Regions from separate parts of the Homo sapiens genome. Here region 1 is linked to region 2. The links come from fine-mapping of genetic effects on gene expression. A gene starts in region 2. The other region holds a variant in brackets. All regions are shown on one strand. Distances are from middle to middle.

Evidence for each region.
Region 1: its variant is fine-mapped to the expression of ACLY in whole blood (TOPMed, PIP above 0.99).

Annotation. Positions count from the first base shown.
Region 1 is chr17:42,024,301-42,039,761 of GRCh38, reverse strand. It overlaps NKIRAS2 (NFKB inhibitor interacting Ras like 2), which reads right to left. Exons shown (of 4, transcript NM_017595.6): 4 at 14,121-15,461. It overlaps ZNF385C (zinc finger protein 385C), which reads left to right. Exons shown (of 9, transcript NM_001392013.1): 3 at 1,877-2,025; 4 at 5,427-5,537; 5 at 7,978-8,143; 6 at 10,689-10,979; 7 at 11,516-11,712; 8 at 12,034-12,144; 9 at 12,629-14,186. The coding sequence ends at 12,865. It overlaps C17orf113 (chromosome 17 open reading frame 113), which reads left to right. Exons shown (of 3, transcript NM_001358661.2): 3 at 1-1,530. The coding sequence ends at 57. Among named protein-coding and RNA genes, the nearest start is that of NKIRAS2, 12 kb to the right of the region's middle. RefSeq lists enhancers at 10,217-11,005, 14,776-14,825. The variant C/T (reference allele first, on the strand shown) is at 10,870.
Region 2 is chr17:41,911,538-41,926,998 of GRCh38, reverse strand. It overlaps ACLY (ATP citrate lyase), which reads left to right and starts at 8,048. Exons shown (of 29, transcript NM_001096.3): 1 at 8,048-8,119; 2 at 13,103-13,284; 3 at 14,457-14,579. The coding sequence starts at 13,126. RefSeq lists silencers at 7,666-7,925, 8,406-8,645.

The sequences.
Region 1 (15,461 bases), 110 kb before region 2:
GTGGAGTTCTTAGAGAGTGGGTGGGGAGAGGGCTTCCTGGGGTCGCAGCTCACCTGAGGGTGGCCTCCTTCCCTCGGCCCATCCAGCCTGGGGCCCTGGGCACTGTAAGGGCCAACCTAGACTTGACCATGCTGCACCCAAGATGATCTGCTGACTGCAGCCTCCCAGGGGCCTGAGGCCATCCACCCGCCCTTCTGGAGCTTCCCACCAACCCCCCCCACCCTGTGGGCTGTGGAGGAAGGGACTGGCTCAAGAGGGGCCTGGGCGGGTGGGCAGAGATGCTAGGATCTGGGGTACCCTAAATCATTCCTGGCCTTTACACAGTTAGATGAGGAGTAGCTCACCCTTTTCCCTTCTGGACTCGGGGCAAGTTTGGGTCCCCCCAAAGATGGGAGTTTTTGGCTTGGGGAAGGAAGACTAGGTCTTGGAAATTGAGTGGCTGAGGGAACGGACACTGGTCCTTGGTCCTTGGCTGTTTCTTTCTTTTTCTTTTCTTTTTTTTTCTTTTTTTGAGATGGAGTCTTGCTCTGTCGCCCAGGCTGGAGTGCAGTGGTGTGATCTTGGCTCACTGCAACCTCTGCCTCCTGGGTTCAAGCAATTCTCCTGCCTCAGCCTCCTGAGTAGCTGGGATTACAGGCGCCTGCCACCATGCCTGGCTAACTTATGTATTTTTAGTAGAGACAGGGTTTCACCATGTTGGCCAGGCTGGTCTCGAACTCCTGACCTCAAGTGATCCACCTGCCTCGGCCTCCCAAAATGCTGGGATTACAGGCATGAGCCACTGCGTCTGGTCCTTGGCTGTTTCTTAGCCCCACTCCTGGCAGTGTCTCTTCTCTTCAGCTATGACTGGGGAGTAGATGACCGTGCTTGTTTCTGACACACAGCACAGTGTCCTCTCTGTACACAAGCTGGTGGTTCAAGGGCCAATGGTTCCAGAGAGATAGTGGTTCCCTTCCTTCCCTCCTCACCAATAGGCAGCCTCAGGCCTTTTCTGTGTATAACTGTGTATATAGACATAAAAACCTACAAATGTGAAATAAATCTATGCTATCTTTCATAGTGTTACCACACAAACATCTAAAAGGACTACTTTTGGTTTTGCAATGACAGGGTCGAAAAAAGCCCCAGATGGGCTGGATTTTTTTTTTTTTCTGATATTTTCTTCCTCAAAGTCCAGTTGCTCTCCAAGTTCCTACCCCTCCCCTGCCCTTGCCTCAGACCTTTAAGACCAAAGACTGCAAAACCACAGTGCTGTACCTGCCACCTCCAAGGACTGGCGTCGAGGCCCAACCCAGGAATGTTGGCTTATTTACCTCCTGGGGGAAGCAGTTTAGGCCTCATCAGAGCTGGGGAGCACATCCCTTCAGAGCCCATGGGTTTCCCATTCCCTCCTGTCAGCCCTGGCCATGAAATCCTGGGGATCTGGAGGGAGGGAGGATAGTTAGAGAGTGAGAGGGGCGAGGGCTAGCCTTTTCCTAATACCCCTGGGTTTGAGTTTAATTTGCAATAAAATGGAATCCCAGCACATCATGCAGTCTCCATGGTGGTGTGTGTGTCAGGGCCTGCCCAGACCCCTCTGTCCCTCTCTTGGCTGGGCTGCCCTGGGGTTCAGTATGCTGCCTCAGTAGGGGCAGGAGGGTCATCCCTCTGGGCTGGGAGCCTCAACTGTGGACTCCCTGCCTCTGCTTCCCCAGCTGTGGGGAGGAAGGGCACAGAGAAGGGGGCTATAATCACTATGGGTCTGGCTGGTGCCACTCTGTGAAGAGAGACACAGGTTTCTGCCCAGCTCCACACCCAAGAAGCCCACCCGCCTCTTGTTCTGGCCACGGGGGTAGGACAGAGCCCATTTCAGACCCTGCCCTTCTTCCTCCTGCAGCAGGCCCGGCCTCCGGCGCCCCCAGCCCCCTGCTGGCCTCCCTGCCCCTGCCCACCCGGCCTCTGCAGCCCCCGCTGGACTTCAAGCACTTGCTCGCCTTCCACTTCAATGGCGCTGCCCCGCTCAGTCTCTTCCCCAACTTCAGCACGGTATGGGCTGGGCTGGCGGGTGGGGGCATGCACACAAGCTTGTGGGTGGGCACAGAAGGTGGGTTCAGAGGGTCCAGCTCTCAGCAGCTGGGTCTAACCAGGAGCTTTTTCTCCAACATCCCCCAGAGGGGATAGGTGCTCCCCAAATAGGGACCCCTATTTGGGATCCTAAGAGAGGGACCCGCTCTCTCTTAGGCTGGGGAACAAGATGGTGTCAGCCCTTTCCCCACCCCCACCATCATAGCTGCTGGGCCTGCAAGGGCCTGTAGTCTGTGCATTCCACTTAAGCTTCTGTGTAGGCGCTCCTGTGGATGACGTGTGTGTGTGTGTGTGTGTGTGTGTGTGTGTGTGTGTGTGTAACCTGTGCCTTTTTGTTGTAGTTTCTATAGGTTTTGTATGTTATATGTGGATGTGAGTTTGTGTGTTGGTGTCCAACGTGTGTTTGTAAACAACTCTTTGTGCATGGGTAATTTTATGTAATTAAGGTATGTGCCTGCACAATCTGAGGGTTTATTGTGTCCTTGTGTCTTTTGTGTGTTTGGCGTGTATCTGCCCTCTGAGCATGCGTGTTTTTGTGTGGCTTGGGTGATTGTGAGTTTACCTGTGGTCATGTGCCCTTTGTGTGCATGAGTGTGAATTGTTCTGCTTGTCTGAGCATTTGTAACTGCCTGAAGCTTCTGTGCTGTGTGTGTGTCCTAGTCTGTACATTTCCTTGTACACGTGTGCATAACAAGTATATGAATTTTAATTCACTATATGAGGGATCAGCAACCATCTCTGTTTTTTTAAATTTTGAAAACTCAAGTGAAATCATGGGTGTGGCATGCCCCATCCTGAGCAGATGGTGGCAAACTCCACCTCAGTCACACTTAGGAATCCCTTCCCTCCCACCCTCCAGAGTTAGACAGAGGTCCTAAGGAGTCTGAGGCATTTGGGGGGTGGTCCTCTGGTCTTGAGTCCTTGCTGTCGCTTGCTGACAGGCTCACTGTTGAATGGCATGGTTCCAATTGCAGGGGGCCCCTGCAGGCCATTCTCCTCTGAGGTCCTGTCCCCTGAGCCCCTTGCTGGCCCTGGGTGCTGTGAAAATTTGAACCACTTTCTGTTCTCAGGGAAGTTTCTGCACCCATGTTCTTCTCTCTAAGCTCTGTTTTCTTTTCTTGGGAAGGTTTGGAAAGTTCCTTTTTTATTTTATTTTATTTTTATATAAGCAGAGATGAGGTCTCACTATATTACCCAGGCTGGTCTCAAACTCTGGAGCTCAAGGGATCCTCCCACCTCGGCCTCCCAAAGTGCTGGGATTACAGGTGTGAGCCACCACGCCCAGCCTGGAAAGTTCTTGACAAGTTCAGACAGCTGCATTTGGCCCAACTTCCTGAGAAAAGGGAACATAAAGCCTTAATTCTATAGAAGAAAAAAATGATTTAAAATAAGGAAAAGAAGCTAGGTGCAGTGGCTCATGCCTGTCATCCCAGCACTTTGGGAGGCTGAGGTGGGCTGATCATCTGAGGTCAGGAGTTTGAGACTAGCCTGGCCAACAGAGATGGTGAAACCCCATCTCTACTAAAAATACAAAAATTAGCCGAGCATGGTAGTGGGCACCTGTAGTCCCAGCTACTTGGGAGGCTGAGGCAGGAGAATCGCTTGAGCCCAGGAAGCGGAGGTTGCAAGATTTTGGCTCCGCCATTGCACTCCAGCCTGGGCGACAAGAGGGAGACTCCATCTCAAAAAAATAATAAGGAAAAGAAAAAAAATCCAAATTAATATTCCAAAGAAACGATCCTACTCCTTGGGGAACCTTAGGCCTCCACTTGCTGCTCCCTGCCCCCTACTGGCCCCCCACCTCCCCTGGCTGTGGCTCTCACTCTCTCAAGAGAGGTCGTCATGGCTGGGCACGGTGGCTCACACCTGTAATTCCAGCACATTGGGAGGCCAAGGCAGGCGGATCATTTTGAGGGCAGGAGTTCGAGACCAGCCTGGCCAACATGGTGAAACCCTGTCTCTACTAAAAATAACAAAAATTAGCCAGACGTAGTGGTGGGCGCCTGTAATCCCAGCTACTCGGGAGGCTGAGGCAGCAGAATCACTTGAACCTGAGAGGTGGAAGTTGCAGTGAGCTGAGATCATGCCACTGCACTCCAGCCTGGGCGACAGAGCAGTATTCCATCTTATAAAAAAAAAAAAAAAAAAAAAAAAAGGTCGTCAGCAGCCTCAGGCCCTGTGACAGTGATAGAGCTGATGAGATAGGACTTATCTTCCCCCAGCCCACAGGTCCCTGCATGAAGCCTGGGTGATGGGAGAGGAAATTCCAACAGACGAGTTCTTTGTCTCTTCCCTGCCTCTCCTTGTTTCCAACTCTCTGTCCCAATAGTTGTAATTATTGCAAAGGAGAAAAACAAAAAACAAAAATAATGACCTAAGGGGCACCAAGAGATGCCAAGGTGATCACCAGGACATGGTTCTATGTCCCAGAAACATGCAGGGCACTCTGGCCATTCCCCTGCTTCCAAGCAGAAGCCTAGGCTGACAAATAAAGACAGCCGGGAGAGGCTGTGTATTTTTCTTTTCTTTTCTTTTCCTTTCTTTTCTTTTCTCTTCTCTTTTTTTTTTTTTTTTTTTTTGAGACAGAGTCTCACTCTGTTGCCCAGGCTGGAGTGCAGTGGCGCAATCTCAGCTCACTGCAACCTCTGCCTCTGAGGTTCAAGCCTCCTGCCTCAGCCTCCTGAGTAGCTGAGACTACAGGCACGTGCCACCACACCTGGCTAATTTTTGTATTTTTAGTAGAGAAGGAGTTTCTCTTGGCCAGGCTGGTCTTGAACTCCTGACCTCAGGTGATTCACCCATCTTGGCCTCCCAAAGTGATGGGATTACAGGCGTGAGCCACTGCACCCAGGCAGCTGTTTCTTCTTCTTTCTTTCCTTTTCTTTTTCTTTTTCTTTTCTTTTTTTTTTTTTTGAGACGAAGTTTCGCTCTTGTTGCCCAGGCTGGAGTGTAATGGCCTGCTCTCGGTTCACCGCAACCTCCATCTCCCTGGTTCAAGCAATTCTCCTGCCTCAGCCTCCCGAGTAGCTGAGATTACAGGCATGCGCCATCACACCTGGCTAATTTTGTATTTTTTTTTTAGTAGAGATGGGGTTTCTCCATGTTGGTCAGGCTGGTCTTGAACTCCCAACCTGAGGTGATCTGCCTGCCTCGGCCTCCCAAAGTGCTGGGATTACAGGTGTGAGCCACCGCGCCTGGCCCAGCTGTTTCTCTTTCCAACATCCACAGGATGGAAAAGTTCTTCCTAGAAGCTGACCAAGGCCCTCTTCAGTCATCTTTAGTTTTGGGCATTTTGTGCTGCCCCCGACCCCTGCTTCCCAAGCCAACCCCAGAGTTATTATGCCCTCCCACTCCCTTCACAGATGGACCCGGTCCAGAAAGCTGTCATCAGCCACACGTTTGGTGTCCCCTCCCCTCTGAAGAAGAAGCTGTTCATTTCCTGTAACATCTGTCACCTGAGGTTCAACTCAGCGGTGAGACAAAGTAGTGAAAGCAGGTCTGGGGAGGGGGCTGGGCAGGGAGAGGGCTGGAGGCTGGGCTTTCAGAGTCCTTCTGGGAGGAATATCAGTGGCAAAGGGGCTGTGGTCGGTATTTTCCACCCTGGCTGCAGAAGAGGCACTCTTGGTCCTTTAACCATCGCATCCTCTCCTCTCTCTAGATTCTTCTGCCCCTTCCCCTTCTGCCCAGCTGTAGCCCAGTGGGATTCCATTTCCTTCCCCCCAGGCCTCTCTCCTGTGTTCTGGATCCTTCTGCAAGAGAGAAGACTGCCCTTCCTCCACTCCAGGTCCCAGTGGCCCATCTCATCAGCTCCTGGTCTGGAGCTGAGCTCTTAAGGCACCTGAGAGTTTACAGAATGTGATCATGCCCATCCCCTTAAATAATAGTTTTCATGATACATCTGTGAGACGGGTGGAGGCGGGATTTTTTTGTTTTGTTTTGTTTTTTTAGACAAGGTCTCACTCTGTCACCCAGGCGGGAGTGCAGTGGCGCAATCTTGGCTCACTGCAGCCTCCACCTCCAGGGTTCAAGTGATTCTTGTGCCTCAGCTTCCCTAGTAGCTGGGATTACAGGCATGTGCTACCACGCCTGGCTAATTTTTTTATATTTTTGGCAGATACAGGGTTTCACCATGTTGCCCAAGCTGGTCTCGAACTCCTGGGCTCAAGTGATCCACCCACCTCAACCTCCCAACATGCTGGGATTACAGGTGTGAGCCACCGCGCCTGGCCTAGAGGCGCTATTATAATCCCCGATTTTCAGATGAGGAAAGTGAGCCTTAGAGAGGTTAAGTGACTTGCCTAAGACCACACAGCTGGTAAGTAGCAAAGCTGGGATATGAATCCAGGCCTGGCTGACCCCAAGGTCTATGACTTTCTACTACAGCCTACCCCTTTCTACTACATCTTACCACTAGGTAGAGGAGGAACCTCATTCTGGCCTCCCAGGGAAGGTCTACCTCCTGTTAGGCAATCTGGGGTTTCGGTTGGATGCCAGCAGAACTGCTGTGGTATAGCATCCAGGGAGGGGCCATGGGGGCCTGTCTTTCCCATGTTTCAAGGAGGTGGGCCGGGGAGCAGCAAGTGAGGACCCTTGGAGGGAGGACACTGACAGACCAGATTTGAGGATTCCCTTCAGGCCTTCTGGTTCCATGAGTCCTGCAAGAGATGGAGGAGAGGCTGGGCGTGGTGGCTCATGCCTGTAATCCCAGCACTTTGGGAGGCCAAGGTGGGTGGATCACTTGAGGTCAGGAGTTAGAGACCAGCCTGGCCAACATGGTGAAACCCCATCTCTACTAAAATACAGAAGAAAAAAAAAAAAGCAGCCAGTTGTGGTGACAGGTGCCTGTAATCCCAGCTACTCGGGAGGCTGAGGCAGGAGAATCGCTTGAACCCAGGAGGCAGAGGTTACAGTGAGCCTAGATTGCTCCCGTTGCACTCCAGCCTGGGTGACAAAGCGAGATTCCGTCTCAAAAAAAAAAAAAGATGGAGGAGAGAATTCGTTCTGAGGGAGGAACCATTCTTCTTCCTGCCGGACCCCGGGCACAGTGCCTGGCAAATAGCAAATGCTCAGTAATGACTTGTTGAACAAATGAACAAAGGGATGAATGTTCTGGGGTACATACACCCCAAAGTGTGGGGATTGCTCTGCTTTCTCCATTTGTGCATTGATACACTTGATAACTAACATTCATTGAGCACCTACTCTATGTACTCGGCCCTTGTAATTCATGTTCCCATGTAATTCTGACAACCCCATGAGGTCAGTATTATCATCACAGGGTTTATGGGTGAGGAGACTCAGGCTCAGAGAGATGTTACTTGCCTAAAGATGTAGTTAGTGGCCAGGCGTGGTGGCTCACGCCTGTAATCCCAGCACTTTGGGAGGCTGAGGCGGGTGGATCACGAGGCAGGAGATCGAGACCATCCTGGCTAATATGGTGAAACCCCGTCTCTACTAAAAATACAAAAAATTAGCCGGGTGTGGTGGCGGGCGCCTGTAGTCCCAGCTACCCCGGAGGCTGAGGCAGAAGAATCGCTTGAACCCGGGAGGCGGAGGTTGCAGTGAGCTGAGATGGCGCCACTGCACTCCAGCCTGGGCGACAGAGCGAGACTCCATCTCAAAAAACAAAAAACAAAAACAACAACAACAACAACAAAAAGATGTGGTTAGTAAGTGGCTGGGTCAGATCTGAAGCCAGAGGCAGCCTGCCTTGGAGTTCATGTGCGAGAACACATTCTGCAAACCTCAGAGCCACATGTGCTATGGTGATGATGATGACAAGGACAAGGACTTGCCCTTTGTGTGACCTGAGCCCTGCCTCCCTTTGACCTGTCCCCCTGCTGGGCTCCAGTTCACAGATGGGGCATGTGGACTCAGCCAGTGAATGGTGACCTCTTGCCCTCCCCTCCCCAGAACCAGGCCGAGGCACATTATAAAGGCCACAAACACGCCAGAAAACTCAAGGCTGTCGAGGCTGCCAAGAGCAAGCAGAGGCCACACACCCAGGCCCAGGATGGGGCTGTAGTGTCCCCAATCCCAACGCTGGCCAGTGGAGCCCCTGGAGAGCCACAGAGTAAAGGTCAGTCCTGAGCTCTTCTCTTTCCCACGTCTCCACTCCAAATCTGGTTTCCGACAAGGGGTTGAGAGATTTCTGCTTATTCTTTTTGCTTGTGTTGGAGTATTCCATACAGACAGGCAAAGGCACACAAGTGTACCACGCCATGAATTTTCCTAAGCTGAACACACCCAGATCAGGAAACACGTTACCAGCACCTCAGAAGCTTGTCTTGCACCTCCTCCTGGTCATTACCTTGAAGTATTCATTTCCAAGGGCTGCCTTCACAAATGACTTCATTTGTGAAGTTAGGAATGGTGGCTCACATGTTGTGATGGTTAACACTTTGGGAGGCTGAGGCGGGAGGATTGCTTTAAGCCTGGAGTTTGAGACCAGTCTGGGAAACATGGTGTGACCCTGTCTCTACAAAAAATTTATTTGCCAGGCATGATGATGCACACCTGTAGTCCCAGCTACTCAGGAGGCTGAAGCAGGAGGATCTGCTTAAGCCCAGGAGGTCGAGGCTGCAGTGAGCTATGGGTGACAGAGCAAAACCTTGTCTCTAACCTCCCCTGCCCACCCCCACCCCCAAAAAAAGAGACTACAACCTGGGTGACTGAAAACAACAAAAATTTATTTTCACACAGCTCTGGAGGCCAGAAGTCTGAAATCAAGGCGTTGACAGCATTGGTTCCTTCTTGGGGGCTTAGAGGAGAAAGTGTCCCATGCTTCTCTTCTGGCCTTTGGTGGCTGCCAGTATTCCTTGGCACTCCTTGGCTTATAGACGCATCACTCCAATCTCCACCTCCATCTCCACATTCTCCCTTGTGTGTCCCTGTGTTTCCACAAGCTCTTTTTATAAGGGTACCAGTCACTAGATCAATCCCACCCGAACCCAGCATGACCTCATCTTAACTAATTTTATCTTCAAAGACCCTGTTTCCAAATAAGGTCACATTCTGAGGTTCCAGATAGATGTGAATTTTGGGGGAGACACTATTCAACTAACTACAACCCCTCTGATGGTAAATACGATCCTGACTTTTCTCAGCATAGATCAGCTTTACCTATTTTTGGTGAAACATAGAGTGTGCAGGGGTTTTTTTGTATCTGTTTTGTTTTGTGGGTTTTTTTTGTTTTGTTTGTTTGTTTTTTGAGACAGAGTCTCGCTCTGTCTCCCAGGCTGGAGCACAGCGGTGCAATCTTGGCTCACTGCAACCTCTGCTTCCTGGGTTCAAGCCATTCTCCTACCTCAGCCTTCCAAGTAGCTGGGACTACAGGTACCTGCCACCACGTCCAGCTAATTTTTGTATTTTTAGTAGAAACGGGGTTTCACCATATTGGCCAGGCTGGTCTCGAACTCCTGACCTTGTGATCCACCCACCTCGGCCTCCCAAAGTGCTGGGATTACAGGCGTGAGCCACCCTGCCTGGCCGGTATCTAGTTTTTATTCATCTCTCACAAACATTCATCAACATTCATTATATCTGTAAGATTCATCCATGTTTTTGCGTGTAGCTGTAGTTTGTTCTCTTTCATTGCTGTGTAGTACTCCACCGTGGATCATACCACTATTTTTTTTTAATTTAAATTCTTAAAAGCTCTTTTTTTTTTTGAGACAGGGTCTGGCTCTGTCACCCAGGCTGGAGTGCAGTGGTGTGACCTAGGCTCATCCACCTCCCTGGCTCTCAAGCGATTCTCCTGCCTCAGCCTCCCAAGTAGTTGGAACTATAGGCATGTGCCACCATGCCTGGCTAATTTTTGTATTTTTAGTACAGATGGTGTTTCGCTGTGTCACCCAGTCTGGTCTCGAAGTCCTGGACTCAAGTGATCTGCTAACCTTGGCCTCCCAAAGTGTTGGGATCACAGGCGTGAGCCACTGCGTCTGGCCCATACCACTGTGTTTTTTTTGTTTGTTTGTTTGTTTTTGAGATGGCGTTTCACTCTGTCGCCCAGGCTGGAGTGCAGTGGTGTGATCTCAGTTCACTGTAACCTCCACCTTGCAGGTTCAAGCGATTCTCCTGCCTCAGCCTCCCGAGTAGCTGGGATTATAGGCATGTGCCACCACGCCTAATTCTGTATTTTTAGTAGAGATAGGGTTTCACCATGTTGGCCAGGCCAGTCTCGAACTCCTGACCTTAGGTGATCCACCTGCCTCGGCCTCCCAAAGTGCTCGGATTACAGACATGAGCCACCGTATCCAGCCCGCACCATTGTTTTTTAAAAATCTGCTCTCCTGTTGGTGGACATGTGGGTAGTTTCAGTTTTATGATATTATGAATAGTGTTCTCTGAACATTCTAGTACATCTTTTTTGGTGATCTCTGTTTAAGTTAGCAAATAAGGATATGAGGGCTGTGAGGGCTTTCTGAGACCACTGTGTCCAACTTAATGATTTCAGATGGGGAAACTGAGGCCCAAGTCTGCCCAGTGAGTTGGTAGAAAAGTGGGGCCTGGAATTCAGTGCTGGTCATCCACCAGGGGCCCTCCAGGCCACCTCCATGGTCAGAGCTGAAGATCGTGGTCTGCAGCGTCATCTTGGGTCTCACACTCTTCCATCTCTGCAGCAGTTCCTGCAGCCCCTCCTCTTGGGCCTCCACTCCAGCCACCACCAACTCCAGACCCTACATGCAGGGAGCCAGCCCACTCAGAGCTCTTGGATGCTGCCTCCTCATCCTCTTCTTCCTCCTGCCCACCTTGCTCCCCAGAGCCTGGGAGAGAGGCACCGGGGCCTGAGCCAGCGGCAGCTGC[C/T]GTGGGAAGCAGCATGAGTGGGGAAGGCAGGAGTGAGAAGGGGCACCTCTACTGCCCCACGTGTAAGGTGACAGTGAACTCGGCCTCCCAGCTTCAGGCTCACAACACAGGTCAGTAGTCCCAGGAGCTGGAGCCCAGGGAAAGGGTGGGACAGAAGCTAAGCCTCGCCAGATGAGGGCAGGCTTGAGTTCCTGGGTGCTTCGCTCAAGGGTTGGATGGCGGAGGCTTTGTGCTTGTGTGTTACTGAACGGACGTTTCTGGGTCCTCCCATTACTCCTTGGGGAAGGAGAATTGGGAAGAGAAGTCTGAGGCAGCAAGAACTGAAGGTCGCTAAATCTCTGAAGGGTCACTCCACAGGAGACAGGAGACATCTGCCTCTCTCCTTAGATTACACCCAGAAGGAAAGGACTGAGATCAAAGCAAAGGGGAAGGCAGCTATTTGTAGTGCAGAAAGGCCTTTCATAGGAGGGGCTGGCATGAAAGGACAGAAGCTGGGAGGGGAAACCACGTGTGGCTGGAGGGCGATGTGTGCACAGAGCAGCCGTGAGGCTTACAGGGAGAGCCAAATTGCATGAGTGTGGAGGGGGTCTCTGTGGCCCCTGCAACCCCTTCCTGCTGCTGAGAGACTGCCTTCTTCCCTCTCCAGGAGCCAAGCACCGGTGGATGATGGAAGGTCAGCGAGGGGCTCCCCGGAGGAGCCGGGGCCGCCCGGTGTCCAGGGGAGGTGCCGGACACAAAGCCAAGAGAGTCACAGGGGGCCGGGGCGGCCGGCAGGGGCCCAGCCCTGCCTTCCACTGTGCTCTCTGTCAGCTCCAGGTCAATTCAGAGACCCAACTGAAGCAGGTGGGAGAAGTGAGGCTGTGACTGGGGTTGGAGCCAGGGGAGGGGGTTGGGGGGCAGGGCAGCAGAGGGAGGGACCCTGAAGAGAGCAGGCAGGGCACAGCAGAGCAGGCTGGAGAAGCGAGGCCAGCAGGCCAGTGGGCCAATTAAGGGCAAAGGCCAAGACTCACCTCCCCTTCCCAGGGCCTACCCCAGGGTGAGGACCCAGTCTGTGTGCTTTGGATGTATGAGCTGTGGATAGAGGAAGGGGAAGAGTCGAGGATGATGGTCTTGGGGTCCTTGGGCTTTGTCATCTTGTTCCCAGTCTGTCTGTCTGTCCATTAGCACATGAGCAGCAGGAGGCACAAAGACCGCCTGGCCGGGAAGACCCCCAAGCCCTCCAGCCAGCACAGCAAGCTGCAGAAGCACGCAGCGCTGGCTGTGAGTATCCTCAAGGTATCTGTCTCCAGGCAACAGAGCTGGGACTGGGTCAGGAGGGGAGAGGGTGGGCTGGGAGGGCCAGATGGGGGGGCTGCGGTGGGGCAGGAAAAGAGGCCACCCTGCAATGAGGCTGCTGGGCAGTGACAGAGCTAGGCCTGGGAACTGGGATCTGCGCAGAGGAATTTCCGGGGAGGTGGGTTGGGATAGTCATCTTAGGGGCAAGAGTGAGGGGTGGGCGTGCATCTCCTAGAGACCATCTCTATCCCGTAAATCCTCCTCCCTTCTCCCATGCTGAGACTTTCCTCCCTCTGGACAGGAAGACAGGTGGTGGAGAAAGCCCTTCGGAATGAATGTTTGGGGGTGGGAAGGGAGGAGGATTTAGGTTTGGAACTCTAAAAGGCACGCTTTCCCTGCAGCAAAAAGCTTGAGGATGGGCCCCAGGGAGGGGGTGGGGTTTTCTGGGGTGGAGACTGTGTCCATTCCTTTCTTTTCCGTGTAGTCTAAACTGGCCTTGCAGAAGCAACTCACCAAGACGTTGGCAGCCCGCTTCCTGCCCAGCCCGCTCCCCACCGCAGCCACTGCCATCTGTGCTCTGCCAGGGCCCCTGGCCCTCCGCCCTGCCCCTACAGCAGCCACTACCCTCTTCCCGGCTCCCATCCTGGGCCCAGCTCTGTTTCGCACCCCAGCAGGAGCTGTCCGCCCTGCCACAGGACCTATCGTCCTTGCCCCTTATTAGCCCTCATGGGGAGGCCAGAGCTGATTTCCCAATAGCCACTCCTTGTCTCCTCCTGTCCTGAGACACCTTGGTTTCCTACATGCCACAGGGACTGTGAACAGCTTCAGGGGTCCTGCCCGATCCAGAAAGAGCTGGGCTAGTTTTAAGGGCAGCTGCCTTCCAAGGACTGTCCCCACCCTCCTTTCGCAGGCCTTCCAGGGTTAATCCTAGGCTTGCCTGCATTTCCCACCCTGACAGACCCCAAAGATCTATGCAAAATCTCAGCCCCAGCCATGTGGTGCTCTCACTTTCCTCCACCCAAGACCCACATGGCCAGACTCTAGGAATCTTAGCTTCTACAAGCCATCCTCTCCTAGCCAGGGGACGACTCTCTGACCTCTATTCCTAGGCTTTGGGGCTTCACTGGAGATAGGGATGGGGTCTCTAGCTGCAGCAGGCTCAAGGCTGTCAGGACAAGGTGACCATGGGAGTGTGACAGAGGACCATGGAGGAGAAAGGGGGACCCAAAAGTCCTTCGATCAGCAGTGCTAAGGTGGGGCAGAGCCAAGGAGGTAGTGGGGCTGGTTCTGAAAGCTTTTGGGGGCTTCATCTGCTCTGAAGGGGTGGGACTAAGAGAGGAGGTGATGTTCTGGTTGGGCCCAGGGTTTTGTTTTAATCTTAAGTCTTCTGGGCATTCATGGGCCCAGTCTTTTTTTCTGTCTGAGAGTATCATTCTGTTGCCCAGGTTAGAGTGCAGTGGTGCAATCTTGGCTCACTGCATGCAGCCTCTGCCTCCCTGGTTCAAGTGATACTTGCTGATAAGCCCAGTCTTAATATTGAGGGAGTAACTCATCCCTCAGAAGCTCTTCTTCTTAGCCTTTCTCTGACTTCCTGAACCCCAACTCTTGGAGGGCGGGTGTGGGTCTCCCTCAGACTATGGACTCAGCTAACACCGAACCCCCCGCAGAGCTCCCAAAGGAAGAGCTTTCCCCTACAGCTTCCCACTCCAAACTGGTCCTAGCACTAAATTCAGCTTTCCCTTCTCCCAACCAGCCCCTGCCACTGTGAAGCTGAGTGTTGGGAGGCAGTCTCACATGCACTGGCAAGACCCATTTTCATGCTGTCAATGTCAATGTCACAAACTCCTTTCCACTGCAGCACTGCCCCCTCCCCACCCCACAATATGGGACCCTGCCAGTATCCCCCTGTATCTTTTTTTTGTTTTTTAAAGACATTTCCAATGGGAGAACCAGAAAAAGGGGGAGGGGAGGGAAACTTTTTGATAACAATTGTGGTTTTATTGTGTCCAACCAATGCATCAATAAATGAACTTGAAGCCCAAGCCTGTGTGTGTCCTAATTCCACTCACCCAGCCCCGGGCACCTGCCCCACTCACCTCTGGCTTTGAGAAGGGGCGTGTGTCGGTGGTTGCCTGGCTGCAGTGTCTCACCTAGGCTAGGTGTGCACCTTAGAAGCACAAAGCGGGCACAGTTGTGGGTAATAAGCTTACTCTGCAGGCCGCTGGGTGTGTGCCCACCCTCCTGAGCCCCGAAAGAGGACCTGTCAGCTCCTGAGAGGCTGCTACGGGTTTGCCTTGTTCTGTTCAGGCATCTGAGGTAAGAAGGAGGGGCCAGAGGAGCACCTTGTCCAGCCTTCACCATGAGAGCGGGCATATAAATATAAATACAGGTAACTTATAAATAGAAGTCCAGCTCTGAGCTGAAAACCACAGGCAGGATAAAGAGCAGCCTCCAAGAGCGAGGCTGGCGGGCTGGGCACTGAGCGGCCACTCTGGTGACTGACAGCAGGTAGTGCACTCCTGCCCCCTGGTGGCTGGAGGGAGCGGCAGATCCCAGCCTCCAGGGCTGGTTGGCATAGCACCTTAAAGAGGGAGAAGCCATTGGCTTTACGAAATCAAGAGAACTGGAAAGGATCTAGGAGATCATCTAAGCAACTCTGGTCATCTTACAGATGAGAAACTGATGCCCAGAGAGGGGAAAGGTCTTGCTGGGTCACAAAGTGGGCTGGTGACTCATAGCCCAGTTATTCTATTCCATCTCAACCAGTGAGGCCCATCTGCTCCCTGAGCAGGAAGAGGAAGTAAAACAATTGGTAGGGGTGGGGAATTTTTTTTTTTTTTCTTCGAGATGGAGTCTTGCTCTGTTGACCAGGCTGGAGTGCAGTGGCACGATCTCGGCTCACTGCAGCCTCCGCCTTCTGAGTTCAAGCAATTCTCCTGCCTCAGCCTCCCCGGGTAGCTGGGATTACAGGCATGTGCCACTACGCCCGGCTAACTTTTGTATTTTTGGCAGAGATGGGGTTTCACAATGTTGGCCAGGCTGGTCGTGAACTCCTGACCTCAAGTAATCGACCCGCCTTGGCCTCCCAAAGTGCTGGGATTACAGGGGTGAGCCACTGAGCCCAGCCAGGGGTGGGGGATTTAAAACAGAAAACTACACTCCCAGGAGGCCAACTTCTTCCAGCCAAGAAAAGGACAGGAGAAAGGTCAGGGTGAGGGATGAGGAGACGCCTAATGCCAGTATAGGAGCATATTTGTGTGTGCACAACTAAATGCATACACACAATACCTGGACACCCTTTTTCTGGAGTCCAGGCT
Region 2 (15,461 bases):
TACTCGGGAGGCTGAGGCAGGAGAATCACGTGAACCTGGGAGGCGGAGGTTGTGATGAGCCAAGATCGTGCCATTGCACTCCAGCCTGGGCAACAACAGTGAAACTCCATCTCAAAAAAAAGACCAAAAACCTCATCAAATTGTACACTTTATGTGCAGTTTATTGTACATTAATTATATATTAAGAAAGCTGTTTTAAAAACACAATAAGGCCTGGCGTGGTGGCTTATGCCTATAATCCCAGCACTTTGGGAGGCCGAGGCGGGCGGATCACCTGAGGTCAGGAGTTCAAGATCAGCCTGGCCAACATGGTGAAACCCTGTCTCTACTAAAAATACAAAAATTAGCCGGACATGGTGGCAGGCACCTGTAATCCCAGCTACTCGGGAGGCTGAGGCACGAGAATCGCTTGAACCTGGGAGGTGGAGGTTGCAGTGAGCCAAGATCGTGCCATTGCACTTCAGCCTGGGGAACAAGAATGAGATTTCATCTCAAAAAAACAAAACAAAACAAAAACCATAAAATACCAATCATAATGTGTGCTTTCTGGCAATTTATAAAGCACTGTGAGCTTGACAACACCCTAGTGAAGTAAAGAGCCAGTCAGTGGTTTCCTGGTTTCACAGATGAGAAACTCTGAGGCTGAGAGAAATGACAAGGTTTGCTCCAGGCTACAGCACAAGGATATAAGTGAGCTGGGTTGGGGCCTATTCCTTGGGTTCGATTAGCAGGATAAAGAGTGCTAGAATTGGATTCCAGTGTGTCCCAGCCATTTATAGCTATGTTCCTCATGTTATTGCTTTATTTCTTCTTTTATTGTGAAATAGAACATAAGTAAATAAACATACATGTCTGGCCGGGCGTGGTGGCTCACTCCTGTAATCCCAGCACTTTCGGAGGCCAAGGCAGGCAGATCACCTCGAGTCGGGAGTTCAAGACCAGGCTGGCCAACATGGTGAAGCCCCATCTCTACCAAAAATACAAAAATTAGCCTGGTGTGGTGGCACACACCTGTAATCCCAGCTGTACCAGAGGCCGAGGCAGGAGAATCACTTGAACCCGAGAGGCAGAGGTTGCAGTGAGCCATGATCACACCACTGCACTCCAGCCTGGGCGACAGAGCAAGACTCTCTCTCAAAAAAAAAAAAGTACACCTATGTAGTCATCACACAGGTAAATCAAGAAACATATTGCTAGCAGGGGGTCCTGTGAAAGGCCTCTCTCCACTCACAGCTCCCTCTCCAGGTAACTACTGCCTTCACTGTGAGCCCTCATCATCTCTCTCCTGGATTACTTCAACATCCTTCTAAGTGGGTCTCCTTGGCCTCCCCTCCCCCACTTCCTTCTCAACACAACAGTCAGAAGATTACTTTTATTTATTTATTATTTATTTAGACAGAGTGTCTAAATAAAGGCTGGAGTGCAGTGGCACAATCTCGGCTCACTGCAACCTCCACCCTCCTGGGCTCAAGCAATCCTCCCACCTCAGCCTCCCCAGTAGCTGGAACTACAGGTGCATGCCATCACACCCTGCTAATTTTTGGGTTTTTTTTTTTTTTTTTTTGGTAGAGAAGGTGTTTTGCAATGTTGCCCAGGCTGGTCTTGAACTCTTGAGCTCAGGCAATCCTCCTGCCTTGGCTTCCCAAAATGCTGGAATTACAGGCATGAACCATCATGCCTGGCCAGAAGACTCCTTTTATTTTTTTATTTTCATTTATTTATTTATTTTGAGACAGAGTTTCGCTCTGTCGCCCAGGGTGGAGGGCAGTTGCAGGATCTCGGCTCGCTGAACCTCCACCACCCTGTGTGGTGGTGGGCGCCTGTAACCCCAGCTTCTTGGGAGGCTGAGGCAGGAGAATCGCTTGAACCCAGAAGGCAGAGGTTGCAGTGAGCGGAGATCGCGCCACTTCACTCCAGCCTGGGCAAAAGAGTGAAACTCCATCTCAAAATAATAATAATAATAATAATAAACTCATTCAGAGATAAGTTTAAACGTGTCATATGTAAAAGTCAAGGGTAAGTGATTTATGTGTGTGGGAGGGGCTGCACAGGTTCTTCCTGAAAGAGGAGGGAATTTTATAGGAACATACCTGGTGGGGAGGAGGCAGTGGCAGTTTTTGAGAGAGAGTCAGAATGGAGTGGGGGTGACTCTGGGAAGGGGCCAGCCTGGACCTGGTTGGGCTGCATGGAGAAACTTTATTCCCTGAGCACAGATGCTGCATCCCCAGAGAGATAACTGCTGCCCAGGAGTGGAACTAGCCATCCCTCCAGCTTCCCTGGTGGCAGGCAGCCTCTGTCGGGTTAGAGAGAGGGGCCCTGGCTGCATCTCCCTGGAGAGCCTTCCCCAGGACACACAGGCCCTTAGCTCTGATGGAAGGTTTGTCAGTACTGGGCAAAAGTGAGTGGTGCGGAAGTTAGAATCCTTGGCTCTTCACAGGGTGGATGATGATGGGGCTTTGCTGGAAGCTCCTGTCTTGGGCTGTTACAAGGAGAGAGGTGGGTTTAGAACTGGATACTCTACATAAACAGAAAATGCATTTGAAAAAAATAGTAGCCGGGCACGGTGGCTCACGCATGTAATCCTAGCACTTTGGGAGGCTGAGGCGGGCGGATCACGAGGTCAGGAGATTGAGACCATCCTGGCTAACATGGTGAAACCCCATCTCTACTAAAAATAAAAAAAAAAATCAGCCGGGTGTGGTGGCACGTGCCTGTAGTCTCAGCTACTTGGGAGGGCGAGACAGGAGAATCACTTGAACCCAGGAGGCGGAGGTTGCAGTGAGCCGAGATCACGCCACTGCACTCTAGCTTGGGTGACAGAGCGAGACTCAGTCTCAAAAAATAAATAAATAAAAAATAAATAAATAAAAAGAAAAAAATAGTAGAACTGGGCCGGGCGTGGTGGCTCACACCTGTAATCCCAGCACATTGGGATGCCGAGGCAGGCGGATCATGAGGTCTGGAGTTAAAGACCAGCCTGGCCAACATGGCGAAACCTCATTTCTACTCAAAATAGAAAAATTAGCTGGGCATGGTGGCGGGCACCTGTAATCCCAGCTACTCAGGAGGCTGAGGCAGGAGAATCGTTTGAACCTGGGAGGTGGAGGTTGAAGTGAGCCCAGATCACACCATTGCACTCCAGCCTGGGTGACAGGGTGAGACTCCCTCTCAAAACAAACAAACAAACAAACAAAAAAATAGTAGAACTGGACACTTAGGTAGACCCTTCTCCAGGCTGCATCTCCTCCCTCCTCTCCCTGCCCTTCCCCTACAATTGCTTTCTTTCATTCACATATTATAAGAGCCTTTTTTTAGTCATGTTTACAGTGAATGCTTAATATGTGTCCAGTCCCATGCTAGGCACTGGAGATGCCAAAATGAACAAGGCACTCTCCTAGGCCTTGGGTTGCTTACAGTCAGATAAAGGAGATCCACTGGATAGGATCTTTCCCTCTTACTCACCTGCAGCAGGTTGCAGGGTACAGGCCCAAGGACTTGGAGTCTGAAGATCATTAGGTTAGTTGATCATAGGCAAAATGATGAAAACACTTAGTTAGCTCAAGTGGCTGCTGTGAGTAGTATGCCTTTCACATAGTAGGTGCTCAATAAATATTAACTAAAATTGGTCCAAATCTAGGAGGAAGTCCTTAGCCAGTTTTAGGCTTCTGGAACCCAGGTGGAATGCCCAAACCTGGGCTTGGAGATGGTGCCTATAACCCTCTGTATTCTGATAGGGACCTGTCCTCTAGTCCAGTCTAGAAGAGGAGGGAGGTGATTCAAATGGGAAAATCAAAAGAGTTTAGAGCTTTTATTTTATTTTTTATTTTTTGTAGAGATGGGGGTTTTGCCATGTTAGCCAGACTGGTTTTGAACTCCTGAGCTCAGGCAGTCCACCCGCCTTGGCCTCCCAAAGTGTTGGGATTACAGGCGTGAGCCACTGCACCCAGCCTGGTTTAGAGCTTTTAAGTTAGAAAATAGAATGATGAGAAGATGGGTTCTAGATTGATTAATTCAAGGCAGATGAACCTCTGTGGGTGCATGGTGGGGTAATGAGAGAGTCTTACTTGAGGAGGCTGGGCGTTGGGGGCAGAAACTTGGTATGAGACCACTGAGTGAACTGGAAAACCTCAGTGGCTGGCTCATGGGCCCTCTGGCCAGCACCTCTTCCCCCTCACTCTCTGGACAGTTATTTTTTGTTGTTCCTGCCCAGGAATAGTCAAACTTAGGCCTAGCAACACCTAAATGGAGGACAATCATTCAGCAAACATTTATTGAGTACTTACTGTGTAACCAGTCCCTATTTAAACTGCTAGAAATACAGCAATGAAGAAAATAGACAAAGATCCCTATCTTCGTCATGCACATACGCAAGTATATCTGAAGGATAAATTATTAGAAGTGGAATTACTGGACCAAAGGGCAAGTGAATTTAAAATGTTTACTGATATTACCAAATTGACCTTCAAAGAGTTTATTATATTTTATGTCCCGCCTGGATGACCATTTCCCCAGGAGTGTATTTGTCTTTCTTTTTTTTTTTCTCATACAGGGTCTCACTCTGTCACCCAGGCTGATGTTCAGTGGTGCAGTCACGGCTGACTGCATCTTTTTTTTTTTTTTTTTTTTTTGTCTCGCTCTGTCACCCAGCCTGGAGTGCAGTGGCGTGATCTCGGCTCACTGCAACCTCCGCCTCCTGGGTTCAAACGATTCTCCTGCCTCAGCCTCCTGAGTAGCTGGGACTACAGGCACGTGCCACCATGCCCGGCTATTTTTTTTGTATTTTTAGTAGAGCTTGGGTTTCACTTTGTTAGCCAGGATAGTCTCAATCTCCTGACCTTGTGATCCGCCCGCCTCGGCCTCCCCAAGTGTTGGGATTATAGGCGTGAGCCACTGCACCCAGCCAGCCTCCCGAGTAACTGGGATTACAGGCATGTGCCACCACATCCAGCTAATTTTTTGTATTTTTAGTAGAGATGGGTTTTGCCATGTTGGCCAGGCTGGTCTCGAACTCCTGGCCTCAAGTGATCTGCCTGCCTCAGCCTCCCAAAGTGCTGGGATTACAGGCTCGAGCCACCGTGCCCACCCAGCTCACTGCGTCTTTGACCTCCTGGGCTCAAGTGATTCTCCCACCTCTGCCTCCTGAGTAGCTTGGACTACAGGTGTGTGCCACCATGCCTAGCTAATTTTTTTTTTTTGAGACAGTGACTCACTATGTTGCCCAGGCTGGTTTTGAACTCCTGGACGCAAGTGATTTTCCCACCTTGGCCTACCAAAGTGCTCGGATTATAGGCGTGAGCCAGCATGCCCAGCTGCCCAGCTAATTTTTTATTTTTTGTAGTGACATAGACTCACTGTATTGCCAAGGCTGGGTTGGAACTCCTGGGCTCAAGCCCTCCTTGGCCTCTCAAAGTGATGGGATTACAGGCCTGAGCCTATGCACCTGGCCTCCCAGGAGTATTTCCTTCCTTCCTTCTTTCTTTTCTTTTCCTTTTTTTCTTTTTTGTTTTTTTTTTTTTTTTCTGAGACAGGGTCACACCCTGTCGCCCAGGCTGGAGTGCACAATCTCAGCTCACTGCAGCCTTGATCTCCTGGACTCAAGTGATCCTTCCACCTCGGTCTCCCAAGTAGCTGGGACTACAGGTGTGCACCACCATGCCCTGCTAATTTTTGTTTATTTTTTTGTTTTGTTTTGTTTTGTTTTGAGACGGAGTCTCACTCTGTGGCCCAGGCTGGAGTGCAATGGCACGATCTCTGCTCACTGCAACCTCTGCCTCCTGGGTTCAAGCAATTCTCCTGCCTCAGCCTCCCAGGTAGCTGAGATTACAGGCACCCGATACAGTGCCCAGCTAAATTTTTTTTTTTTTTTTGCTTTGAGATGGAGTTTTGGTCTTGTTGCCCCCGCTAGAGTGCACTGGTGCGATCTCGGCTCACTGCAACCTCCGCCTCCTGGGTTCAAGCGATTCTCCTGCCTCCGCCTCCTGGGTTCAAGCGATTCTCCTGCCTCCGCCTCCTGGGTTCAAGCGATTCTCCTGACTCAGCCTCCTGAGTAGCTGGGATTACAGGCACCTGCCACCACGCCCAGCTAATTTTTTGTATTTTTAGTAGAAACAGGGTTTCACCTGTTGGCCAGGCTGGTCTGGAACGCTTGACCTCGAACTCAGGTGATCTACCCACCTAGGCCTCCCAAATTGCTGGGATTACAGGCATGTGAATCACCACGCCCGGTCTTTTTATTTTTTGTAGAGATTTGATGGTGGTGGTGGGGGCTCTTACCATGTTACCCAGGCTGTACTTGAACTTCTGGGCTCTAGCAATCTGCCTGACTTGGCCTTCCAAAATTCTGGGATTACAGGCATGAGACAGCATGCCTTGCCTGGAGTGTATCTTTTTTTTTTTTTTTTTTTTTTTGAGATAGAATCCTTCTCTGTCACCCAGGTTGGAGTGCAGTGGTGCAATCTCACCTCACTGCAACCTCCACCTCCCGGGTTTAAGCGATTCTCATGCCTCAACCTCAAGAGTAGCTGGGATTTATAGGCGTGTGCCACCATGCCTGGCTAATTTTTGTATTTTTTGTAGAGATGGGGTTTTGCCTTGTTGGTCTTGAACTCCTGACCTCAAGTGATCCCCCACCTTGGCCTTCCAAAGTGCTGGGATTACAGGTGTGAGCCACCAAGACTGGCCACCCCCATTTTAGGACAAGAGAAGAGAGGTGATAAGGAACTGCTATTTCAAAAAGATGAATGGGAGGGAAGGGACCAGAAAGTGACATCATCAGGGAACACTTGATTCAGGCATGGGTAGCAAGTTCAGTTACCTTACTCCTGGCAGCAACAGGATTGGGGGAGGGGGTCTTGGAGAAGATTTTGTCTGCAAATGTCGCAACACTGTTGCAGTGTGAGTATGACCCAAAGTGCTTGGCAGGGGGACAGGCCTGCTGCTTCCCTGCATTCTGGGCTGACCTCTTCACCTGAGTCGGTCAGTGGACGCTTTTGGCCTCCTTCCTGGAGCTAGACAGCTGTTAGGCTTAGGGAGCAGCTCCGGACCTACAGGGTTGGGGTGCAGGTAGGGAGGGAGGCTGCAGCATGTCAGAGTGGTAAATACATGTCCTGATTTCCAGGACTGATTTCACATATTCTGCCCCACAAGTTCACCAGCACCTGTCAGATTGGATGTCCCAGTTTTTGGTTTGGAAAATTCGATCTGTCTCAGGTAATGGAGAAGGGGGAGACAGCAGTTCATTCATTCCAGTGTCTAAGCCTGTGGTTGGTGGGAACAAGAGACTGTCTGGGATGGCTCCAGCCCTTCGCTGGAATCTCGCATTGAATTCCTAGCTCCGCCCTGATCCGTGCTGAGGCGAGCAGGTGAGTGGGACGGACAGCGCTGTGCCTGCACCCTCCTAGCCCCACTTGCTTACCGCGGCCCCTGCCTTATCCCACACTGGGAAGTATGCTCTGTTAGCCTCGGCTCAGCCTTGCCTCATCGGCCCAGTGGGGAGAGTCCAGGGAGGAGAGAGGCTCCACGTGCTAAAGGAAAGCGGCCTGCCAGACACTGCTGCTTAAGGAGACTGTCTAAGCAATCGGATTCGGTGCGGCCGAGATGCAGACGTCCGTTTCTCCCAAGGGAAGGAGCAAGGGTACTCCAGGTCCCAAAGCTGCGTTACAGCCAGTTGGGCTAATCCTACCCGCCCCTCCCCCAACTCCCCGAGTGGCAATCTGTCCAGCCCCTCAAGCGATCAGGCCACAACCCCCAGCACCGCGCGTTCTCCTCCCAGCCTAGCCCGGCCCATCTCCCCACCCGGGGCCCCGCCCCGGCCCCGCAGGCTCCCAAGAGGCGGTGGATGGGCCAGCGGGACTACAAGTCCCAGCAGGCCCCGGGGCCCGCCCTCGTGGGGCGGAGCCAAGCCAGCAGCGAATTGGGAGGAGCCCTGGCGCTCAGGCTAGGGAACGCGTGTGGCCAATCGCGGGGCCGTTCTCGCCGCGAGCCGATGGGGGCGGGGAAAAGTCCGGCTGGGCCGGGACAAAAGCCGGATCCCGGGAAGCTACCGGCTGCTGGGGTGCTCCGGATTTTGCGGGGTTCGTCGGGCCTGTGGAAGAAGCGCCGCGCACGGACTTCGGCAGAGGTGAGCACGGGAGGCTGTTTTCGCTGGCTGGAGCCCGCTCGCCCTAGGAGCTTCCTGCCTCCGTCCCCCAACCCGGAACCGCCTTCCCCGACGCGGGCTCGGTGCCCACGCGCCCTGCTCGGAAGTTTTGAGGGTCTTAGCTTTAGGTTAGCCTTCGCCCGGGGTCCCGGCCGGTGGCCGCGTGTCGACGCCCCTCCCCTCCCCCCGCGCGACACACACATATTCCAGTTCCTGGGAGTTTGCATGGGGCTTGCCGCCATCCTTGCCTCTTCTGCCTCTGCCACATTGCATGGTCCCCCTCCTGGCGCGCCTCACCCCTCCCGGGCACAGCTATCGAGGCTCCTCGGGCTCATCGGGACGCCTTTTGGCTCCATCCGGGTTCCCCCATCGGATGCCGGGACGGGAAGTAGAGAAAGCGGTGGCGACTGGTCCCACTCCGATTCCTCACTGGCCGGGCTCAGGCCCTTCTTGGTTCCGTGGGTACAAAATTGAGCTCCACGCCCAAGTGGAGAGAATGAGCTATGCGCGCCTCCGGGGCGGGCCACGCGGGGCCAGGCTGCCCCAGGGTGCCCGAGGCCTCGCCTCGTCTCGCCGCGAGGACTGGAATCTCGCAGCAAGGACCCTCCTCGCACTGGAGGTATCGTCGAGTCCAGCCCCTAAGTGACAGATGGCCGGGGTGCCACCCCACCCTTGAGCTGACGCCAAGTCTGGCCGGGGAAAGGTCCTCAAGGGGCTGGAGGATGCTGCCGCCGCCCTCCTGTCGAGCCTGGCAATGGGCCAGTCCCAGCGCCTGCCGCGGTCTCCAACCTTGGCAGATACCGTGCAGTGCCGAGTTCTGCCGTTATGGGGTCCCTGGAGGTCTTCCTGGGAAGAGGATTTTGGAAGAGACGATAAGGAAAAGTGCACAGCACAGTTTGGCCAGCTAGCCTACTCCTCTCCACCCTTAACTTTCCTCTGTGTTTTCAGCTGGCTCAGCTGAACTAAAATGTGGGGTGAGGGACAGCTGGTAGGTCTCATTTGCCCAGATGGGTGATTTTCACCTCTTAGAAACCTTCCTAAACAGCTTGGGGGGCGGTAGTGGGAAGACCCCTCAGACACTGGACAGCTTATGGCTCCATCCCCGTTCTGACACTATGCCTGCCGCAGTAAGGGGCACTCACAGAATTCTGCCTCTCTAGAATTTACTCCAGGGATTGCCTGTCTTCTCAAAAAATAAATAAATAAATACCTACATACGTAAGTCCCAATCCTGCAGATACTAACCTTCAAATGAGTGTTTTTGTCTTTCCCAGAGGCACCCTTAGTAGCATCCCCAGTGATTCCCTTCCCCTGGCTGTGTCCCAGGGGCGTGTTCTGGGGAACAGGCTTCTTTCATTCAGCCTCCTGTGTGGGCTGCTTCTCTCAGTGTCTGCTAAAAGTGAACTCAATCCTGGGTCACTCACCCGTCTGCAGAAAGACTCCATTCAGCTCATAAGGCCCCTCCCTTAGAGAATGTGTGTATGTGTGTGTTTTCAGGTTCCTTGGCATGATTTCCCCCAAATGGTTTACACATTTAGCTGTTACCAAGTAACAGTTCCTGGAGTCCAAGCTCAGCCCAATCATCTGTTACTTGTTTGACAGCACATTCAGCTACTGGGGAGGCAGACTAAGACGTTCTGGGGAGCGGTCCCAAACCCAGATAGGTATTTGTAGGTATTTGCTGATTCCACTAGAGCAAATATTCTTTTTTTTTTTTTTTTTTTTTTGAGACAGAGTCTTGCTCTGTCGGCAGGCTGGAGTGCAGTGGTGGATCTCGGTTCACTGCAACCTCCGCCTCCTGGGTTCTAGCGATTCTCCTGCCTCAGCCTCCCCAGTAGCTACAGGTGTGCACCACCACGCCCGGCTAATTTTTGTATTTTTAGTAGAAACAGGGTTTCACCATATTGGCCAGGCTGGTCTCAAACTCCTGACCTCGTGATTTGCCCTCCTTGGCCTCCCGAAGTGCTGGGATTACAGGCGCAAGCCACCGTGCCTGGCCGCAAATGTTCTTAACTGGTGGTCAGTCTGTGGGCCATCGGATCATTGTCACAGGTGAGCACCTTGAAACAATATGCACAATTGGATTTGTGTACCTTTTTCTGGGGTTTTTTTCAGTCTCAGAAGAGTCTGAGGCCTCAAAGAGGTTAAGAGCCACTGCCTTAGAGAGACTTTAAGACCTCACTGAAGGCCGGGCGTGGTGGCTCATGCCTGTAAATCCCAGCACTTTGGGAGGCTGAGGTGGGTGGATCACGAGGTCAGGAGTTCGAGACCAGCCTGACCAACATGGTGAAACCCCGCCTCTACTAAAAATACAAAAAAAATTAGATGGGCGTGGTGGCGTGCATCTGTAATCCCAGCTACTCAGGAGGCTGCGGCAGGAGAATCACTTGAACCTGGGAGGCTGAGGTTGCAGTGAGCCGAGATCACTCCACTGCACGCCAGCCTGGGCGACAGAGCCAGAGTCCTTCTCAAAAAAAAAAAAACAAAACAAAACAAAAAAACAGAAGACCTCACTGAACCACTAAAGTTGCGATTTATCTCTACTGAGTCCACTCCCTGGGTTTGTGAGCCATTTGCCTTCTCTTTATTGGTGAATTTGCAGAGGCCTTATTTTTATTATGTTGTATACATTCCTTGTCTCAACCTCCCGTCTCTAAGCCAGAATGCTCTAGTGGCAAATCTCTTGTTTTCTATCCTGTATTATCCCATTGTGTCTTCTCTCCTATCCCCCTTCCAAAGACCCTATGGAGATGGGCTCTTGGACCTGAAATTTGATCTGGGTCTCAAGAAAACTGTGATTTCTCAGCTGCAGGGGTCCATTTTTTCTCCCTTGTCCTTTCCAAAGTTGGGTCTTGTGTCTGTTTTGGAGGTGCCAGGTTCAGGGGACTGTTTTACTGGGAGTCTCAGACTTCTTTCTTCTAGAGAGGCATAGCCCAGGGACTTCCTTTCCCCTGGAGTTATGGAAGGAGTCTGAATTGCTGAGGATGGTCAGCCACTGCCCCCTCCTCTCTGAGTGTTCCTTGATCTGCCCTGGGCTGCACTCTCTTTGGAAGGGGGTGGGGGCTGTACCCATTCAATCTGAGGACCAGTTTTTCTGGTCTGAGTCAAAAATATTGGGAAATGGAGCAGTGGGTGGGGGGTGGAGGACCGTGGGGCAGTGAGGTGGTTGGGACGTCTCTGGAAACTCATACTGAGAAGGAATCTCAAGTCATTCCAGGGGAAGGCCAGAAAAGGGAACATCTCTGAGCCCCTTCCCAGCTACCCCACTTTAGGCAGACACCAGGCTGAATACACCCATTGTGCCATGCTGGATACTAGCTAGGAGGCCGACAGAGGCAGCCAAGCCAGGATGAGAACCTGAAGCCCCACCAGCCTGGCCGATTGGGAGGGGGCGCAATGTAGCCCCTGGAATGTTGGCCTTCTCTGAGTTGGGAACGGAGACCCAACTTCCAGCACGTGTAAACAAGCCGGCTCCTTCACTCTGCCCTCCTTTATTTGTACTTGACTTTTTTCTCCCCCAGCAAATTAAACAGCTTTGCTTCTGGGCTTTGGGGGAGTCAGGAGTGACTTTTCCTGATCCGGCCAAGCTCTTGGCCTGAATTTCCATGCCCACCTCCCCCGATTCCCCTCCCCAGCTCAGTCCTTGAGTTACCCACAGGAGAATGGGTGTATCAGGACAGAGTCTTGGAGAGGGGAGATGATGAAATTCTTATCATAGACTCTTTGAAGTGAAAAGGACACATGGGCCTGGCTCTTGGAAAAATGGTCTTTTCTTGGGCTGGTGTGGATTTTTCTGGGGACCTAGGTGTAAGAGGGTTTGGGTTCGAGTCTTGGGTCATAACCTTGCTTATTATTAGGTGGGCTTCTTGGGCAAGTTATCCTAACGCCTCTGAGATTTTATTCCTCATCTAAGAAATGGGGTTATAAATCTCAGTGTACCTCCCAGAGCTCATATGAGATGAGTTTCTTTTTATCTTTTTTTAGACACAAGGTCTTGCTCTGACACCCAGGCTACAGTGCAGCGGTGCAATCATAGCTCACTGTAGCCTCGAACTCCAAGATGAGTTTTCCTATACATGTGATGGAGGATGGTTTCTGCCTCTTCCTCCTCCTCCTCTCAGTCCGCCCCAGTTAGAAGTGACCACTACAGGGTGGTCCCCAGAGAGGCATCTGTTCTTCTTAGTGAGTTTTGCTCTAAATTAGCAGCTGGATGACGCAGTGGGGCGGGTGGAATGTGCTAAAGGTCGGTTTCCCTGCCCTGTGTCTGCTCCATACTCAGGATTGGGAGGCTAGTGTCCAGGAGAAAAGAGGAGAAAAGAGCTTAGCGATGATCCTCCCCCCTCCCCTACTCCCCTTCTAACCAGGACCTGGGGGTGTGACCCTTTTTGAGGCTAAGTAAACTTGCTGGCTTGGCCATTGGCCCGGTGGTGTGTAAGGGTGTGTATAGGGGTAAATCTGGGTGTGGGGGAGATGAAACCTGTAGGGAGAGAAAGGCTAGCCTTTTGCAATTTCAGCCGTACTCTGCACTGGTCAGAGAACAGAAAGGTGTTTCAGTGTCTGCCCACCTCAGATGGGACCAGCACTCAGATTTGGGTCAAAGCACCGGTTTTCTTGGCCTTCTAGCCAGCTGCCTTTTGCTCCAGGATGAGTGTGGTTGTGGATCAGCTAGTTTGCCTAGAGGGAATGGGGCAGGGTAAGGCAAGAGTCCCAGGGGAAATGGCACTTTTGTTTTTCTCTATCTTCCCTCACCCATTATCTCTGGATCTTCTTCCTCTGCTGGCAAAAGTGCTGCTTGATATCTCTCTTCCATCCCTCCCGCTGGGACAGCATTTTTTCCTTCCTCTTGAGAAAAGCTGAGATCTGGTTTTATTGTCTGGGGGCAACTGGGAGTGGGTCTGCCCTGCTGGGGAAGATAGTGCCTCCACACGCCTGCCCCCTTCTGACCAGCTTCTCTCTCCCAGACAGGTAGAGCAGGTCTCTCTGCAGCCATGTCGGCCAAGGCAATTTCAGAGCAGACGGGCAAAGAACTCCTTTACAAGTTCATCTGTACCACCTCAGCCATCCAGAATCGGTTCAAGTATGCTCGGGTCACTCCTGACACAGACTGGGCCCGCTTGCTGCAGGACCACCCCTGGCTGCTCAGCCAGGTGAGCCCTGCCTCCACTTTGGGCCTTTCTTCCAGGCCCGGGGTCTGAGGAAGAGAAAGCCATTGGTTTGTTGGTGATGCCGATAGGGTCATGGGGTTGGAGGCTGCCAGCAGCAGCTGTGGGAAGCATGCCATGGGCTGAGCAGGGTTTGTGTTCATGCTGAGCCCTGCATGTTGAGGTACCCCAGCATGGTATACCCTGCCATGGGCTTGAAACTGGACAAACTGGTGTCCAAATCAAAGCTGTGTTTATTAACCATGTGGCCTGGGGCAAGCCATTTCACCTCTTTTGAGTTTTAGATTCCCCATCTCTCCAATGGGATAATACTCACTTTGAGCTGTAAAGATTAGCAAGAAGCATTTAGCGTGCTTGGTGCCTGGCACATGGTAGATGCTCAGTAAAAAGTAGGGATGTGCCCTCTCCTCCCCTAAGTGGAGTATATCAGGAATGTATCAAGGCAATTAGGAAGTGTGATGTTGTACTTTGTGAAGAATGGCCCCGACCCTGGAGGGTCAGCCTGGAATAGAGGGCTCTGTTCTTGAGATCTTTGCAGGGCCATTGTTAGAAAGCTCTTAGATTTCCTTGGCAGGGCTCAGAGAGTAAGCCTAGGACTAGTGGTGGTGTTTCTTCCCACTAGGAGGCAGCTCAACCACAAAGGGATGGAGGGAGTTTCCTGGCCCTGGAGATGTATGAGCAGTGGTTAGGGGCTGCTTATTGGGCCTGTTGTAGACAGGGTTCAAGCACAGGGATGGGGTTGACCAGATGACCTCTAAGGTTCCTTGCTGCCTCAAGGCTCTGTCTCTCTGTTTTCCTCTTTGGAACACATGTTCTGGTCCATATTCTGAGGGGCTTACTGTTGAATGAAGAAGCTAATGTATCACATAGGGAGGGTAGAGAATCACTTATTCACTCAGCAGGTATTTGCTGAGCGCCTACTCTGTGCCAGGCTCCATCTGGGCACAAATGCCTCTAGATACCTGGTTGTCAAAAGCAAGATATTGGCTAGGGTAGGTGGAGGAAGCATCCAGGAGTTGACTCTGAAGGATGGTTAGGGCTGGCTTTGGAGCAGAGTGAATGGGAAGTCAATCCCTGCTGTCCTCTATTTGGATCCCCAAAATACTACGGTTTATCTAATTCTTCCTCACTCTAAATACAAACCGCTTTTGTTCCAGAACTTGGTAGTCAAGCCAGACCAGCTGATCAAACGTCGTGGAAAACTTGGTCTCGTTGGGGTCAACCTCACTCTGGATGGGGTCAAGTCCTGGCTGAAGCCACGGCTGGGACAGGAAGCCACAGTGAGTGGGCATGGGGTCAGGATGAACGTGTGTGGTAACAGAAGCAAATATGGTCACCTCCAGGTCAGCAGCTCTGTGGATCACCCCCACAGCCAGTCTCATTGTAGCTCAGGGAAGGCAGGAGTCCTGTGGCGCTGACCCACTCAGGTGGCTGCCAGCAGTAGGCTCAGTCTTGATGCCCATTCCCAGCTCCCTCATCATCCAAACTTCTTTGTTTTATTGGTTTGGGCAAGATGTGCTGCAGAGGTAACCTCAATATAATTCAAGAGCCAGGTGGAAATGGTCTGATTCTTTTTTTTTTTTTTTTTGACAGGGTCTTGCTCTGTAGCCCAGGCTGGAGTGCAGTGGCGTGATCTTGGCTCACTGCAACCTCCGCCTCCTGGGTTCAAGCGATTTTCTAGCCCCAGCCTTCTGAGTAGCTGAGATTACAGGCATGCAGCACCATACTTGGCTAATTTTGTATTTTTAGTAGAGACGAGGTTTCTCCATGTTGGCCAGGCTGGTCTCGAACTCCTGACCTCAGGTAATCTGCCTGCCTCGGCTTCCCAAAGTGCTGGGATTATAGGCATGAGCCACTGCGCCCGGCCTACTTTATTTTTTTTTAAGACAGGGTCTCACACTGTCACTCAAGGCTGTAGTGCAGTGGCATGTTCACATCTCACTACAGCCTCCACTTCCCAGGTTCAAGTTATCCTCCCACCTCAGCTTCCTGAGTATCCGGGACTATAGGTGCATGCCACCATCCAGGCTGCTTTTTAACATTTTTTTATAGAGTTAGGGTCTTGAATGTTACCCAGGCTGGTCTCGAACTTCTGGCCTCAGGGAATCCTCCTGCCTCAGCCTCCCATGTAGCTGGAACCACAGATGTGTGCCACCAAGCCC